Regions from separate parts of the Homo sapiens genome. Here region 2 is linked to region 1. The links come from fine-mapping of genetic effects on gene expression. Tissue or cell type: ileum. Region 1 holds a variant in brackets; the other region holds the start of a gene. All regions are shown on one strand. Distances are from middle to middle.

Region 1 (8,077 bases):
GTAATTGAAAATGATCCAAGAAATCTCTATGTACTTCGTAAGACTTTCCTAAGCGTGCCAGCTAAAGCTTTTAAGGTGGTAGAGATGGTTTCAGCGAGGGCTTGGAAGCTCCAAAAAACCAGAAACTTGCCTTGTTGCCTGGGTCCCTCAACAGGGATGGCCAGAGTTTCTTGAGACAATTGCTGCTGTGGTCTGGAAAGAAGCAGAGCCATGAAAGAGGAGAAGGCTTTGTGGCATGTCTAGGCCCAAATTCCAGATGCAGAGTTTAGTGTGAACAGCGTGTCCCTCCCAATCTTGAGAAGAAGATAAAGAATGGTGCTCCTCTAGGATCTGCCCTCGGTTTTTGTTGGGGGCTCCAGTCCCACTAGACCTGGGTTATTGTCAGAAAGGCAGCCTCACAGTACCTCTGCCACTCAGTGGGGGTCTCTGCGCCTGCTGCTTCATTCATCATCCCCTGCCTCTCCCACGTGCACTGGAAAATGTTATTTGCTTCTTGAGGTTCAGAGAGATGAAGAACATGCCTGAGTTCACTAGCATGAAGCAAGTGTTAGAACCTCTGAGAGACTGAAGGGTTGGGGGTGAGGGTTTATGACATCCATGGGGATGCTTAGAGGAACATCTGCCATGTCAGGTGTCATTTCTGAAGCTTCATACTAGATGAATTTGAGATGTGTGGAAATAGGAACAGCCTATTTGTGAGGTTACCTTCCTGGGCAAAGCAATGTTATCCAAGATTCACTCAGAAAGCCGCAAGAAGCATGCTGGAGCTAGGTGTCAAGAGGAGGTTTATGGCATGTCATTAATGGAAAGTCAGGTGGAAAAGAGCTAACACTTCTCAAGGTATCATCCTTCTGTGTCAAAGTCTCTGCCTCTACAGGACTGTAAGTATGTGGGTTGATAACAGCTTCTAGTGCCTTGAACATGTTACCAGTGGTTGAATGAACAAATGAGCAGAAGTTGGAGATACCCTCATTAGGACGTAGGATGTTCTGAGCCTTAGGTTATCTAAGACTAAGGAGTTTATGAGATGGACTATATCTGCAAAGTCCTGGAGGACTTTAAGAGGTGATAAAGGCTCAGTTGTGTGTAGTAGTAGGGATTTACATAAGAAAAATTTTGGATGGCAACTTAAACTAGGTCAGCATTTTTTAAGGGGGGGTAAGGACATGTGTATGTTAAGAAAAGTGGATGTAGTCTCAAATCTGGGTATGTCTAAGTGGGAATTAGTGCAAGTCGTCTCTGCAGGCATACTTAACCAAAATGAGAAATTAGGGAGCTAGGAGAGTTTAGGGTCTGAGGTGTAATCTTCAGCTGAGACACTGGGTGCCTGCCAGCAAGCTCAGTCATTAAGGGACTGAATTCAGGGTAGAAAGTCCAGCCATGGGTGCTGTGGACTCCAAGTTCAGAGCAGAGTAACCACTTTTATTGTGGTTACTAGACCAAGTTCAACATAAGTTCCAATGTCTCCTCTTTTCCCTTGGAACAATGCAGAAAGTCTATTTCCTTCTTGAGTTACTCTAAGGCTTGGTGTTTCTTATATTCATTTCTAGCTTCCTTTAGTCAAGCCAAATTGTTAATATGCTTGACCAAAAATGATGGAAAAATCAAGATAATAGTCAGAGTTGAGTAATTTCTAACATGAGTCAAAATATAAAAATTATTAGACTGCCCATGAACATAAAAACAGTAACATTACCAACATCAGTTCAAACACAGCATCACAAAATAGAAGTATATTTGTAAATTTTAGCAGCTGCGACTGAACTACATTTTCCATGTATTGATAAAGCAGCCTGGGCAAAAAAAGAAATTATGAGTCACAGGGATGTCTGTATCAGACTCAGAGTAGTACGTCAATTTCTAAAATTGATCTTGAATATATTTATGTCAGAGTCATCCCAAGATGCTTCTGATACGAGTCTTGTGCTAGAGAGTAACATGACTTTGGAGATGTCCTAACCAGGGTTATGAGAAACCCTCTTCTATTTGCCATGGTGATGGTTCAAAGCACAGTTCATCTGGTTCACAAAAAGCAGTTGATCCCTGGTTGGGTCAGAGAAGGGCTGGTGGAGGAGATGAAGAAAAATGAGGGGGGAGATTGTCTTGGGCAACTCTGCTGAGCAACTCCTTGAATTTGACCTGTGGTTCCACCCTTCTTAAATTTCTTCTGAGAAAAGAATACTGGCAGAATGTTGACAATTACTGAAGCCTGGTGGCAGGTGAAGGAGGTTCATTAGGCTATCTTTACTTTTGTTTAACAATTTCTATTATGAAAGTTAAAACATTTCTTCAAAGTAGTTGGTAGGATTTTTTTTTTTTTTTTTTTTTTTTTTTTTTTTTGAGATGGAGTCTCACTCTGTCGCCCAGGCTGGAGTACAGTGGTGCGATCTCGGCTCACTGCAACCTCTGCCTCCCGAGTTCAAGCAAATCTCTGCCTCAGCCTCCTGAGTAGCTGGGATTACAGGCGTGTGCCGCCATGCCTGGCTAATTTTTTGCATTTTTAGTAGAGACGGGGTTTCACCATCTTGGCCAGGCTGGTCTTGAACTCCTGACCTCGTGATCCACCCGCTTCAGCCTCCCAAAGTGCTGGGATTACAGATGTGAGCCACTGCACCTGGCCAGAATTATTTTTAAATGGGAAAACAATTTATGGGATTTCTGTATTCTTATTGCATTTCTTGATTAAAAAACAACTAAAAATTGAAATATAAATATATTGTTATATATGACTATTATTTTGCCTATTTTGCACACTTATATATGCCTATTATTTACACTTCTGGTATATAGGAGAGAGAAAGTGAGCAAATGGGTATTTTCCCTAATGAGACGATATATTTTTTCTTACCATGCTAGTGTTTATAGTCTGGAAAATTCTGTTAAGATATGGAAAGTGACAAGTAGAGCCCACTTTCCACTTTATGGGACAGGCTTAGGGAATGACTGTTCATTGAATCCACTCCCAAAACATAGACTTGCCTTTGATTATATTGGCCATCTTTTATGTTGAGGAACTCTAATGGGCATTTTTTTTTTTTTTTCTGGGGACGGAGTCTCGCTCTGTCGCCCAGGCTGGAGTGCTGCAATGATGTGATCTCAGCTTACTGCAACCCCTACATCCTGGGCTCAAGCGATTCTCCTGCCTCAGCCTCCCAAGTAGCTAGGATTACAGGCGCCTGCCACTATGCCCAGCTAATCTTTGTCTTTTTAGTAGAGACGAGGTTTCACCATATTGGCCAGGCTGGTCTCGACATCCTGACCTCAGGTGATCTGCCTGCCTCGGCCTCCCAAAGTACTGGGATTTCAGGCATGAGCCACCGCACCCAGCCAAATGAGCATTGATTCGGGCCCTGAGGTGTGCTCTGAAATATGTGGAGCAACTAGGTTTCCTGATAACTCACATTCACGTGGGGATGGCACTTGGTTTAGCCACATAGACGTCATCTTCATTTTAATAATTAGGCCTAGCTTGTAAGTTACAAATCACAGTGTGACATGTCTGGTTATATTTTTTAAAGACTTGTGTGAAAACTCATTAAACCTGGTGTGTGTGTGTGAGTGTGATGTGTGATGGATTTGATTGCATTCTATTTTGGTACAGGAACTATAAGTACTTGGGGAACCAAATTTGTTATATTTTATGAATATTAAGTAAAACATTAGACCCGTCTATTTATTAATTTAATACGTTCAGTGAGGAAATATTTATGAAGTGCTTTCATGAGTCAGGCACTGCGTTGGGTGCTGGGAATTCAGTAAAGACCAAAAGCCCTGTGGTCATTGTCCTCACGGGGCTCCCAGACTAGCATGGGAGCAAGCATGAATCTAAACAACCACACATGTGATCCATGTAATTATGCGTGCTACTAAGCGGTGTGACAAAGGTTAGGGTCCTTCACGCGTGTGTAATAAGGCGTCTGCACCCAGCGTGGGGCTCAGTGAAAGCATCCCTGAGGAGGTGGTATCTGATTTGCTATCTGAAGAGGAAGAAGAGCACCAGACTGAGGGAAATGCACTTGAGAAGACTCTGATTGCAGGGAGGACACTCGACAAGACCTGGTTTCAGGGAAAACACTGCACTTTGGAAGTCCTAGGAGGCTAGGGTAGCTGGAGAGGAAGGCGCGGAGGGAGACTGGTGCGCAGTGAAGCCAGAGAGGCAAATGCAAGCCGAATCCTGCAGGGCAACGTATCCCATGGAAAGAATTTGGTCTTCATCGGAAGAGCAATTGGAAAGTCTATTAAGGGTTCAACGCAGAGGGATAACATGATCTAATTTATACTTTTCAGGAAATCACTTTCACTGCAGTCTGGAAA[A/G]TGGATTAAAGGAGGGCAGTAGAGGCTACAGCCCCTGGGGAGGGGGTGGTGATGAGTCAGCTGTGAGCCAGCCTCTTGGCCATGCACTGGGAATGTGCCAGGAGGTGAGCGGAATGTTCTCTTGTCCTCTTCAAAATCGTGAGCTGTGGAGAGCAGGACTAGTAAACAGATGATGATACAGTGTGATGAGCTTCATATTAAAAGTGAGTAAGACACATTATGTGAGCACAGTAGAGAAGGCAATTAATTTTGATTTGGAGGATCAGGGGAGGCTGCCTGAGGAGGTATCATCTGACCTAGGCCTTGAGGAATGAGTAAGAACCAAAAAAGAGATTCAAAATTATCCCAATGAAAGGAATAGCAAGAGTAAATTTCAAAGTAAGTTTGAAATGCCTTGAGCTTCAGGGAATGGTCAGTCATCTGATGTGGCTGCCTCACTGCCAGTCCACCCACCCTCCAGCCCAGATCACATGCTTCCAGATTATGGCCTCTAGTACCTTGACTTGAATAATTATTTTATCATATCAGGGCCAGGAATTCCTCAAACCCTCCAGCCTCTCACTGTGTCTCACTTCCTTTGTAACCTTAGTTGCCCAAATTAAATCCCATGAGTCATCATTAACATCATTTTCTGGTAAAGACCCTCAATGTCCTCACCCGTCTCTAACTTTATCTTAAAGACTCAATAACCCTCAACTCTGATTTGCTGCAGCCTGTCTACTCTGCCTTATGCTTGAGCAGCTGCCTTTGGTTGGACAAGGGGACATATCCATGTGCTCTGGTCTTATTTGGGACCACTAGATGCAAGGGAGCTCTCAGGGCAGCCAGGCCATCCTACAACACTTTCCTAGTCCATTCATTTCCCCATGCTCCTAAACCATTCTACACTTTCTACTCTCTCCTCAAAACACCAAGATCGGCACCCTCACTCTCAGATGACAGCTTAGCCTCTGAGGTCAATGAGAAAATAGAAGCAGCCGCAAGAGACTCCACACTGTCTCACACTGCATCTTTCCACAAGCCTGCATCTGAGCCCATAGACTCTACGTTCCCTCCCACTGCTACGCATGAGCTCTCCCTGCTCCTATCAAAAACCATCTTCTTTACCTGTGCATATTGTCTTTCCCCTCTTCAAGGACATGGCTCCAGTAGTCTTTTTCTGGTCCTTTCCTCCATCATTAATTTCCCCCTCTATGAAATTATTTCCATCAACCTGAAATATATTGCAATATCTCCTATCTTAAAAAAAAAATCAACTCTCTCTTGACCCCACATACCTAGAGACATCCTTGTTACCTTACTCCCAGTTATAGCAAAACTTCACTAAAGATGTGTCGTTGTCAGTTTTAGTTGAGCTTATTTCCATTCTTTCTTAAACCTATTCTAATCAGTTACTTCCCCAATCACTTCCCTGAAATTTTTCTTTTCACTAACCAAGACCTGTATGTTGTTAAATCCCACAGGAAATCCAATCTTCATTTTACTTACCTATTAACAATATTCGATATAATTGATCATTCTCCTTCCTTGAAACACTTTCTTTATTTCCGTCGGAGACCAAAATTCTCCGAATGTTTCTTCTTTTTCATGGGCTCCTCTTCCTCAGTCTCCTTTGCTCTATCCTCTTCTCACCAGCCTCCAAATGATAACAGAGGGTCTCAGGGCTTAGTCCCTGGACCTGTCCTTTCTGTATGTGTATTTATTTCTTAGATGATCTTACCTAGTCTCATAGATTTAAATATCATAATACACTGATTACTTCCTTTTCCCTGCTTTCTTTTCTAGCCTGGATCTCTTCACTGAACTCTAGGCTCAAAAATCTGTCTACCTGATGTTTCCATTTGGATCTCTGAAAGGTACCTCAAACTTAGAACTGCTTATCATTTACCTTCAAGCCTGTTCTTCACATTTTCCCACCCTCACATCTAATCCATCACCAAACCCTGTCATCTTCATACTCAATAAATGCCCCAAATCTGACCATTTTTGTCATCTCTATTGCCAACACCCTAGTCCAAGCCACTAGTTCCGCTTCCTGGATTATTATATCAGCTTCTTAACTACTTCCACTCTTGCATCTCCACCCCTGCACAGCATAGTCTCAACTCAATATCAACAGTAATCTTTTTTTTTTTTTTTTTTTTTTTTGAGACAGAGTCTCACTCTGTCTCCGGGCTGGAGTGCAGTGGAGCGATCTCAGCTCACTGCAACCTCCACTTCCTGGGTTCAAGTGATTCTTCTGCCACAGCCCTCCCAGGTAGCTGGGACTACAGGCACATGCCACCACGCCCGGCTAATTTTTTTTTTGCATTTTTAGTAGAGACAGGGTTTCACCATGTTGGCCAGGATGGTCTCGATCTGTTGACCTCGTGATCTGCCCCCATCGGCCTCCCAAAATGCTGGGATTACAGGCGTGAGCCACCGCGCCCAGCCTATCAACAGTAATCTTCTTATAAGGTAAATAGGAATATGTTGTCATTCTTCTGCTCAAAATCCCCCACCAACATTCCATCTCATTCAGAATAACATCCAGAGATCTTACGATGGCCTAGAAGGCACTGGGAGATGAGACACCTGTTTGCTCTCTGACCTCATCTCCTATAAGCCATCTCATTGTTCACTGCACTCCAGGCGTCCTGGCCTCTTTGATGTTCCTTAGACATAGCAGGCATGTTTCCTTCTCAGGACCCACAGGTTCACTGTTCCTTCTTTCTGCAAAGTTTTACCCAACAGTTTTCACTTGGCCTGCTTCCTCACTTCCTTCCAGTCTCTGCTCATGTCATTGGATCAGTGAGGTCTTCTTTGACCACTTTGTTTAGATTAGCAGCTCTCCCCACCCATCAGATTTGTCATTACTCATCTATGTGTTATTTTTCTCCATAGTGCCTATGGCTATGTGACATACTATATTAGTTAGGTTAGTGGTAGAACCTGTAAACATCAGCTCCAACATTTCTGCAGTTGAATACATTGTATGTATTTTAAATGCTAATGTTCCTAATTGGGGTTGGTTTTCCTTCCCCTGGGATTCAGACACTCAGATCCTTCCATCTTGAGGCTCTGCCTTCAGGGCTTCAGAGTCCTCTGTGTCTAGCAGAAACCAAGGAAAGAATAGTAAGTGGAGGAGGCACATCAAGCTCTTAAAAAAGCCTGTCCTGTAAGTGACACATATCACTTCTACTCACATTGCATTGGTAAGAATTTGTCATATGGACACAACTGGTTGCAGTGGAAGCTGGAAAATGCAGTCCCTGTCTGGGCTACTGCCTGCCAGGGACAACTCCACTCTGGAAATTTGGTGCACAGAAGGTCATCCCTGCCATACACACTATGCCTTTACTTGTCTAGTAACAGTGTTCCTTCATTAGAATGTAAGTTCTATGGAGAAGTGATCTGTTTCCATCCCTCTTATAACTCTAGGACATAGGACAGCTTCTAGTGCATAGTAGGTATCCAGTGATTATTTGCTTCAATTTTTATTTTTTTTAAAAGGTCCTAGTCTGGAAGGGGGGAAGAGTTATAGTAGTGTGGGAGCTGAGGCTAAAAAGATAGAGTCAGGTAGTGAAAGGTGTACGTACTTGCAGCCATCATGAATACGGGCTATCCTAATGCATAAATGTGCCCAGATCACAGGCAAATTGGACTAGAACCAAAACATTTGGCCACATTTTTTTTTCCATAAAACCATTTGGACAATAGTTACACAACAGGAATTTCTCTATTGCCATCCTGTGGCTTTGTAGATAAGCAGCAGTGGATCAAC
Region 2 (8,077 bases), 930 kb after region 1:
CTGAGACACTTTCAGTTTGGGTCTAGGCACAGATAATTCACTACCCGCCACTTAGTAAAAGTAACTGACATTTTCACGGAGCTTTTCCTTTACCAAGGGATTTTACAGATATAATCTCATCTGAGCCTCACTAAGCCTCTGTAAGATGAAAGAGGAAGGTCTGCATATAATGATTATTATCATTCTCATTACCGTTATCCCTGCTTGCAGAGATGGGAAAACTGAGGATCCAGGCTCTTTCAAGAAACAGCTAGTTGGATGCAGAACCAGGGTCAAATCTACGTGTTCCCTATTCATAGCCACATGCCTCCTGCCTAAAGCAAAGGCTTCAAATTATTGGTAGGGAACTATAGATAGCCATGAAGACTTTCTAAAAATCCATGTATAGATTGGGGTTGTAAGGGAATGAGCAAGAAAAAGTTATTTCTCTATGGATGGCCTGCCTGGAATCCTCAGAATTTAGAGCATTCGTTTTGTAAAAACGTGAGTGGGAGATTGGAAAATTTGCGAAACGTGAAAGGCAATCAATTGAATCACACTGGGGACTCTTTGATTTGAACTCTGGATAGGTTGAGGCATGGGCTCTATCCCTCTGGTAGAAAGGAGAGAACACATGAATTTGAGGAACGGGACTCTGGCCAGAGCTTGAAATGTGTTCTTGAAAGTCAAGTTGGGGTGGCGGTGGTGGGGTGATGGAAGGGTATCCTGACATCTTGAAAAGTCCTCCATGTGCAAATAGACAGGTGGATGAAGTCACCGAAGTTCTCAGCCCTTGGAGAATGGGGAATTGCGCTTGGTAATGTGGTCGCCACCCCTTGGTAATGAGGTCACTATTGCTGACAGAGAGCACACCTGGCAGAGCAGCTTCTCCAGTCGGGACCAGCCTAGCGGGATCCTTCCTCCATGGCCAGGCAGAGGGCTCCACCCGCGAAGCGGCCTGTGGGGTTGGTGGAAGGGCGGAGAAGCTCTCGCTCCAGGTACCAAACTAAGCCGAGAAAAAAGGGTAAAAAATCGAAAAGAAAGAGCAAATGAAGCGGAAGTTTCAAGGCTCTCTGCGAGGAATAACAGTATAAATAACCGAAGACGTCTTGTAAACACTGCGGTCATAACCCCGAACATTAAACAGCCCCGGTGGCATCTGGCGCATCGGCCGCCGCGGGCTGCGCTGGGGCAGTGAGGGAGCCGGGTCGCAGGCTCCTCGGCCTTGCTTCTCTGTTTATCTCAACTTAATCTTCCCTTAGGAGCTGTTCCGTAGCCTGGAAAATGTTTAAATTAAACCCAGTCCGCCGGAAGTCGTGGCGGGAGCTAAACGCACCCGCTAACAGCAACCAAAAGGCAGGCATGCGGGTTTATTGTTAGAATTAATTAATGGACTATTAATAAGAAATGTAGATAATGTATGCTGCAGAGCTTTGAAAATCCTGAAACACACCCTAAGGGTTATGGAATTTACATCTTTCATAGCTTCTATTATTTCTTCACTAGTTTGCAGCTATGCTCACACCTGGAAGGTGACAAAAGGTGGAGTTTACTTTCTCGCCCGTGTCAGCAGTCATACGGTGGAATCCATGAAAATTGGATTTCCTTTTTCTGGTGCGTTTTACTCTTGAACTGTATAACTGTGGATAACTTTAATACTGCCCATTCTTTGTTTTCAGTTATATAATTTCTATTAGCCTTAAAAGTAACCGATATATTTCTTTTTTAAGGTTTCAGTATAAAACATAATCTGCATCTTCATTATGAAACTCATATGCAATTTTCTTCTATCTCTAGAAGTTTAGATTGAGGTTTAAAAGAACCATTTTCATTATCAAGCTTCCCCATAGTTTCCCACTTTCTTATTCCAAATATTTTTAAAAATCACTCCAAATATCAGAGCTTTTAGCAATATAAAGAAAGATTTATTTTCAAAAGTAGCAAAACTTGTTTGAAAAAAATATATATCTTTAAGTGAATTACTTTATAAATGTGACTGTCAAAGTCAGCTATCCTATGATCTACATTTTACAACATATTGTACAAAAGATACATTGATAGGCTCTTATCTATTTATATATTTATAATTACATATTGCACTTGGACCAGCAAGGCTTGCAGAGTCATTCACGGTAGAAGTTAATAAAGTTAAATAGATGGGAATCTTTGTAAGTACAATTGATCTCCTCTGGTTTGGAAACGAATCTCCTCGTCGTTGTAAAGTGTTCTCGCGGGGTGGGACAGAGAGAGGAGCATTGCGAGGGGGAAGCAGAGACAGAGAGCACTGAGGGCAGGGGTCGCCTTCCCGGGGCCCGCTCCCCCCGGGAGCGCGCCTTTCCCAGACTCGCACCTCCAAGGTCAGGACGCGGTGGTTCCACATAAGCGGCTCGCGGTCACCACTTCTTTCAGGTCACTCTCGGGTTTCCCGGCCACCATAAAGGGCCACGTCTGCGGGAAAGAAGAGGGTGGAGGAGGTAAGTGGCCGTGGCGGAGGGGGTGGGGTGGACTCGGGGCCTGAGATGAAAGGAAGGGGGGCGGTGGGGGCAGGCGGTGCTCTGGAGAGACCGGTTATCTCTGCAATTTACTCCCGGTCCTAGCGCACCCTGCGGCTGCATAAAGCAAATAGCTGCTTTGGCGCCAAGTCACAGCTCGAGGTGGTGGTGGTGCTGGTGGTGGTCTTTTAGAATGAGAGCCAAAAGGGCTTATACTGGGTTCCTTGTGAGACTCAATGCAGGAAGCCCCGGGCAAGCCGAGAGTGGGAGAGTGGGTGGTGCTGTGGCACTGCCTGGAGGCAGACGCTTTGGCAGTCTGAGCCGGGAAGCCCAGAACGACCTTGTGCCTACTGGGCACCGAGTTCGGGGCGAAGCGCCCTCCTGGCCTCCTTCTGAGGCGGTGGTCGGGTTTCAGGGCCCTGTCGCTTTCATCGCCTTTCATCACCATCTATTTCCCTAGTCCGACTTTCGTTTCTTCCATCGCAAACACCGGCTTTGACTACAGCTTCTAGATTAATCACCACCTCTTAAGGAAAAAAAAATGCTATACTACATTGACTTTTAATTTAAGATCGTCTTCATGCTGGACTGAGAAAGTATGCTTTCTCTTCCTTTCTCCGGGCTGTTTTATAATAAAGCTCATTTAAGTTTCTTATTCAAAGATGAAGAGAGTAGCAGTTGTAAATATTCGAGGCAACACTTTCATTTTAGGTGGAGATTTTAAAAAGCTATTTACTCATTGGGGGGGAAAAACCCCAAACTTTCAATTGGAGAGAAAACATTTTTCATGGTAAAATGTGGGTTTGCATCTTCTTCTCCAGCAATTCCAGAAACCAATTCGGTGAGAAGACAATTCAGACCCCTCTCACTACTGCTCTAGTGCTAGCTGATAAGACTTGCCTTTTAAAAGGAAAAATCTCTCATTCTTATCATATACAAACAGAGATCCTAGTAAGTTGTTGTTATTGTTTTTCTTTAGATCTTAGAAGTTTTAAAATAAAATCAAATGAAAAAAATTAAGATATATTTCTTAAACAGTAAAATACATTTGAGAAAAAAGTAGACTCAATGATTATCAGTTTTTTGTGTTAAAAAATTAGGCTCAATGGGCATTACTTTTTAAGATAAAAGGTAACATTTCTTAAATCTTGGGTGAGAGTGACCTATTTTAGTATTTATTACACTCATACTAGTGAGGATTTACTGATTTTGCTGATCATTACTAGAACTTCTGGGATTTAAAAATATTAATCCACTTATAGGAGAAGCACAGAATATTTAAGCGGTTAAGGGCTTACGTGGACAATTTGGGGGGCATAGATGTGTCCTTATCCAATGGTCCTAAATATGCTTGTGAAAGAAACGGAGTTGGGTGTTTTTATTTACAAGGAAAGGAAAATCAAGTTCCACTCTCTGCTAAAAGAAGAAAAAAGGATTAACAAAATGCCTGTCCGCTCGCAGCGTCTTGTCAGTGTTCTCAGTTCCGCAGCAGCCACTGCACCCCAGGGAGGATGGCGATGGAGCGGGAGCGGGGGATCCCTCCTCTGTGCCAGCTCAACACACTTGCAAACTTTTAATTGGGCTGCCACGTCAAACCCTCGCATAAATCACTCCCGCTCCGGGGGCTGGTAGGGCAGAGAGCGAGGGCCGTGTCTAGACCGCCCGCCTCCGGTCCCTGGAGGCTCTAGGCCCGCGGTGGTCGAGATGTGTAAGTCACCGCCGCGCCCACACCCCCACTCCCAGCCCCGCGCGCACTCGCGCCCACCGCAGGCGGGAGTGCGGGCGCGCCTGGACTGCAGCTGCAGCCCCGGGAGCACTCACCAGGTTGACCGGGTGAATGTACCCGTTCTCGTATTTGTCGTTAGCCAGGATCTGCCTCAAGTGGGCGATGTAGCTGGACGCCAGCCTGAGCGTGTCCAGCTTGGAGAGCTTGGTGTCGGGGGGCACCCAGGGCAGGGTGGTCTTGAGTCTGGAGAAGGCCTTGCTCAGCACTCGCATGCGGGCCCGCTCTCGCGCGTTGGCGGCGTTGCGCTGGACCTGCTTCCCCTCCTGGCTGACCCCGCTCAGGGGGCTCTTCTTGGTGGGCGCCTTCCTCCTCTTGCCCAGGCCGCCGCGGCCCTTCTGGGGAGACCCATTCTCGCAGTTGGAGCTCTCCTCGGTGCTCTCGTTGGAAGTCACAAATTCCTTGTTCGAATCCATTTTCAACCCGTCACATTCCAACATCTCCACCTCTTGAAGGTCCTCCACATCGCTGAGGGAGCCGGTGGACATGTTTGGGGGAGTGGACGAGGGAGAGAGAGAGAGAGAGACAGAGAGACAGAGAAAGCGAGGAAGAGGGTGAGAGAGAGACAGAGAGACCCTGAAACCAAGAGGCCTCCCGAGTGTGGCGCAGCCACCTCCTGCTGGGAGCTGGAGTTGGGGTCTGGTTGGGTCTCACAACCCTTTCCCCTTCGCAGAGTTGTGAGAAGGAACCCCGAGGACTTCTGCAGCAGAGGAACCGGCTCTCTGTTTCCCCACTCCCAGAGTCGTGGCCGTAGAGGAGGGTGAGCGAGCGCTGAGGAATTTGGTGGACACTAGGAATTTATCTGGGGAATAGAGGGGCGGATCCTTGCAGCCCAGGGAGGGGCCTGCCAGGCCCCAGCAAAGCGCTTAGACCCCTTTCACAACCGGAGGGAAACTCAATGCACAGACCCTGATTTGCAACTTGTAATGTAAATCAACTCAACTGCATCATGTACTTACCAGCCACCTTCTCCCAACTGTGGCCGGGGCCGAGAAGCAGCATGTTCTGTCCATCTGTAAAAGGCCTTCTTTCTCTCTTAAGACGTCACAACTGGTTGTTACTGAGAACTTTAGAAAAACGACTAGATCGTTTGGCTCTTTCTGGGCCTTCCACCTACACTCCATGCCCTCTCTCCTCCCAAGAAAACACGAATTAAAATACAGGGAGTATCAACCGCATCCTGCCAACACCTCATAAGACTCCAAGGCTTTACCGAGATCTTCCACCTTCCCCGGGATAAATGAAGACAAGTGCTTCCTAGAATCTTTATGGTGATGGAAAAGTAAGTATAAAACATTTCACCTACACCTGGTCATTTTCAAGACATCAAAGGACTGCCTACGTGTACACAAACATACTTGATTTGCACACTCAAACCCAACCACACACAGCTTAGTGGGAGTGGGTAGGGAATGAGAGGGCAGTATGAGTGTGTGGAAAACATTATGTTAGTTGATCATCTTTTCCTAATAAATGGAAACTTTCCCCTCGGTTTTTTTTTCTTTTCTAGAAATGCATTTAATATTGCCTTGAGAGTCTTTGTTGCTCTCAGACATCACCTTGCCTGGCACTTTTTGTGATGCACCGTCCCTTTCAATGCTGCTGTCTTTGTCTTCTTCCAGCCTGTTAGGTGCCAGTGTTCCTCACATGAAGCTGACATTACACAACACAAAGCAAGACTATCCTTTTGAGAAAGGTTCTTTTCCATCTTTAACCCCAGCTCGAACCACCTTTCCTAGAGAATAAGAAAGTCTCCTGGGAAGTAGGTAGAAAAAGCACAGGGAAACAGAACCTAGGGATTGGATGAAATTGGTGCAATGAAACCAGGGAGACTGAAGGCATAAATCTCTCTTACAATTTCTTTGCCAGGTTTTCTTCCCTTGCAGGTAGGCATTGAAGTTGAGGGGCTGGAGCAAAATGTAAGAGTGGTTTCTGAGTGGTTGGCTTAGGGTCTGAAGGCTTCTCCTACATTAAGATATCATATCTCTAATCCTAGGCTCAGCTGGGAATTCACTAACCTCTAACGTTTTGTTTTGCTAGCAGGGTCTTGTTTGCTTTCCCCCTATGCTGTAAACTAAACAGGTTGTCAGCAAATCAGTCTTTATTAATGAATTAGCGACCCCTCTTCCATAATATCTTCGCTGAGGATCCAAAATTTGTTAATCACCAGTGTAGAGATTTATGAGCTCTCTTATTTTCTGTTGTTTGTGCAGGTGGAGATTTAAATGACCACATCCACCCTAAGATTTATTGTGAGAATGATTGATGTTATAAACCAGGAAAAGGACTCTTCCCACAGCAGGGATGACAGAAATATCAAGTTGAAGTTGCCTTTGTCTTCACATACGAATGACCCAGTACTACAACACAGAAAGTATAATAATTTAATCTGAGGTTCAAGACAGCAGTGAGAGAACACCCAGCAGGCCTGTTAAAAATTTCTTCACTAATTCCTCAACTAGTTTCCTTTGATTTGCTCTCCCTTTTCTCAGTCTTGGTAAAACATGAAAGTTAAAGTTATTTTTAGACTAAAGAGCTATGTGAAAATGGGCATTGGCCAATACTTTGTGAAATGTGTGTGTGTGTGTGTGTGTGTGTGTGTAGCTACTAAGATATCTGCAAAATAACTACAAATAATTAATTTGGGCTCTGGAATGTGATAATTATTATAAATCCAAACTATGGCCTTACTGCATACATTAAGCTGTGATTTTTCTTGTTGGAGCCATTTTTTTTTCTTTTTGGCTCTGGGTCTCTGTTACACCTTAGTTAATGGACTGCTCAGGCTGTCTGGGGAGATAGTAAAAATCATAGTAATATGTACCACTGAAAAGATTTCTGTTGTCTGTATATTTTTCAATGTTGGAAACTTAAAAGTACCAATTTCTGGAAGCATGTAAAACTAGCCTCATGTCATAGGCTGGTTTTTATGCTTAGCAATTATTTTTCTTCATAGCCATATAAGAAATAATTAAGTCCCATGTCCATTTATCTTGCAGTAAGACATTTGGGCTGAGAAAGGCTAGTGGGCTGATAATAAATTTTGGAGTGTTTCTAAAATTCTGTAAAAGATGGCTTCCAGTTTGGGAGTAAGAGTCGAAGAATACTGTTGCTTATGTATCTTGATATGAAGTCTTGGAGAGAGAATATTCATATGAAAAATACTTTTTTTCTTTTAAAATTTTGTGTCTATCCCTGCTAATAAACACTTAGGGACAAATGGGTGGGAGAAATGACTTCTTGTTGGATTCTACTGAGCAAGTCATTTAAGCTGTAACTTAAGCTGTGCCAAATTCTCCCAAAATATAAACTATATTCTGTGAGAAGACAAGCACTTTTGAGAAGCTGTATTAACCCTTTTGGTAAGTTGACCATTTCTGTTCCAAAGCACGAAATAGAAAACTCGTGATTTGAAAGTATGAGATCATTTCTAAAAGTTCTTACCTGACTTTTAAGAAACATTTATGCCCCAGAGGCATCTGGCCAATTTGCTGCTCACTTCTAACAATTTGTTTTGCAAGAGAGACTATCTTTGAAAGATTTTAGTGCTAAGGAAATTTTATCTCTGAAAGCTGTAAAATGAAGATTAGGCATGGAATGTACCCTTGAACTTAAATCCTGGTTTATCAGCTGATACATTTACAGGAAGTTCAAATTTGATTCAGTTGCACTTGGATGGAATAATTTGCTTCCTTTTTTATGAGAAGGAAAACATCATAGGCTTCCTTTGAACTGACTTCATATGCCATTACATAATCTTTCTCAGGGGAAAAATATGCCTTTAAATTTAAATGTTAATCCTTTTCTCTTACTCCTCATCATT

Evidence for each region. PIP is the estimated chance that this variant, and not a neighbour inherited with it, causes the effect.
Region 2: TARID starts here. The variant in region 1 is fine-mapped to the expression of TARID in ileum (GTEx, PIP 0.97).

Annotation. Positions count from the first base shown.
Region 1 is chr6:134,813,349-134,821,425 of GRCh38, reverse strand. The region is part of intron 2 of LOC101928277 (a long non-coding RNA gene); the gene reads left to right. Among named protein-coding and RNA genes, the nearest start is that of ALDH8A1, 130 kb to the left of the region's middle. The variant A/G (reference allele first, on the strand shown) is at 4,315.
Region 2 is chr6:133,886,063-133,894,139 of GRCh38, reverse strand. TARID (TCF21 antisense RNA inducing promoter demethylation) reads left to right here and starts at 5,134. Exons shown (of 9, transcript NR_109982.1): 1 at 5,134-5,536. It overlaps TCF21 (transcription factor 21), which reads right to left and starts at 5,027. Exons shown (of 2, transcript NM_003206.4): 1 at 4,293-5,027; 2 at 1,883-2,427. The coding sequence starts at 4,742. The coding sequence ends at 2,338. RefSeq lists enhancers at 1,056-1,664, 2,550-3,314, 4,566-5,479.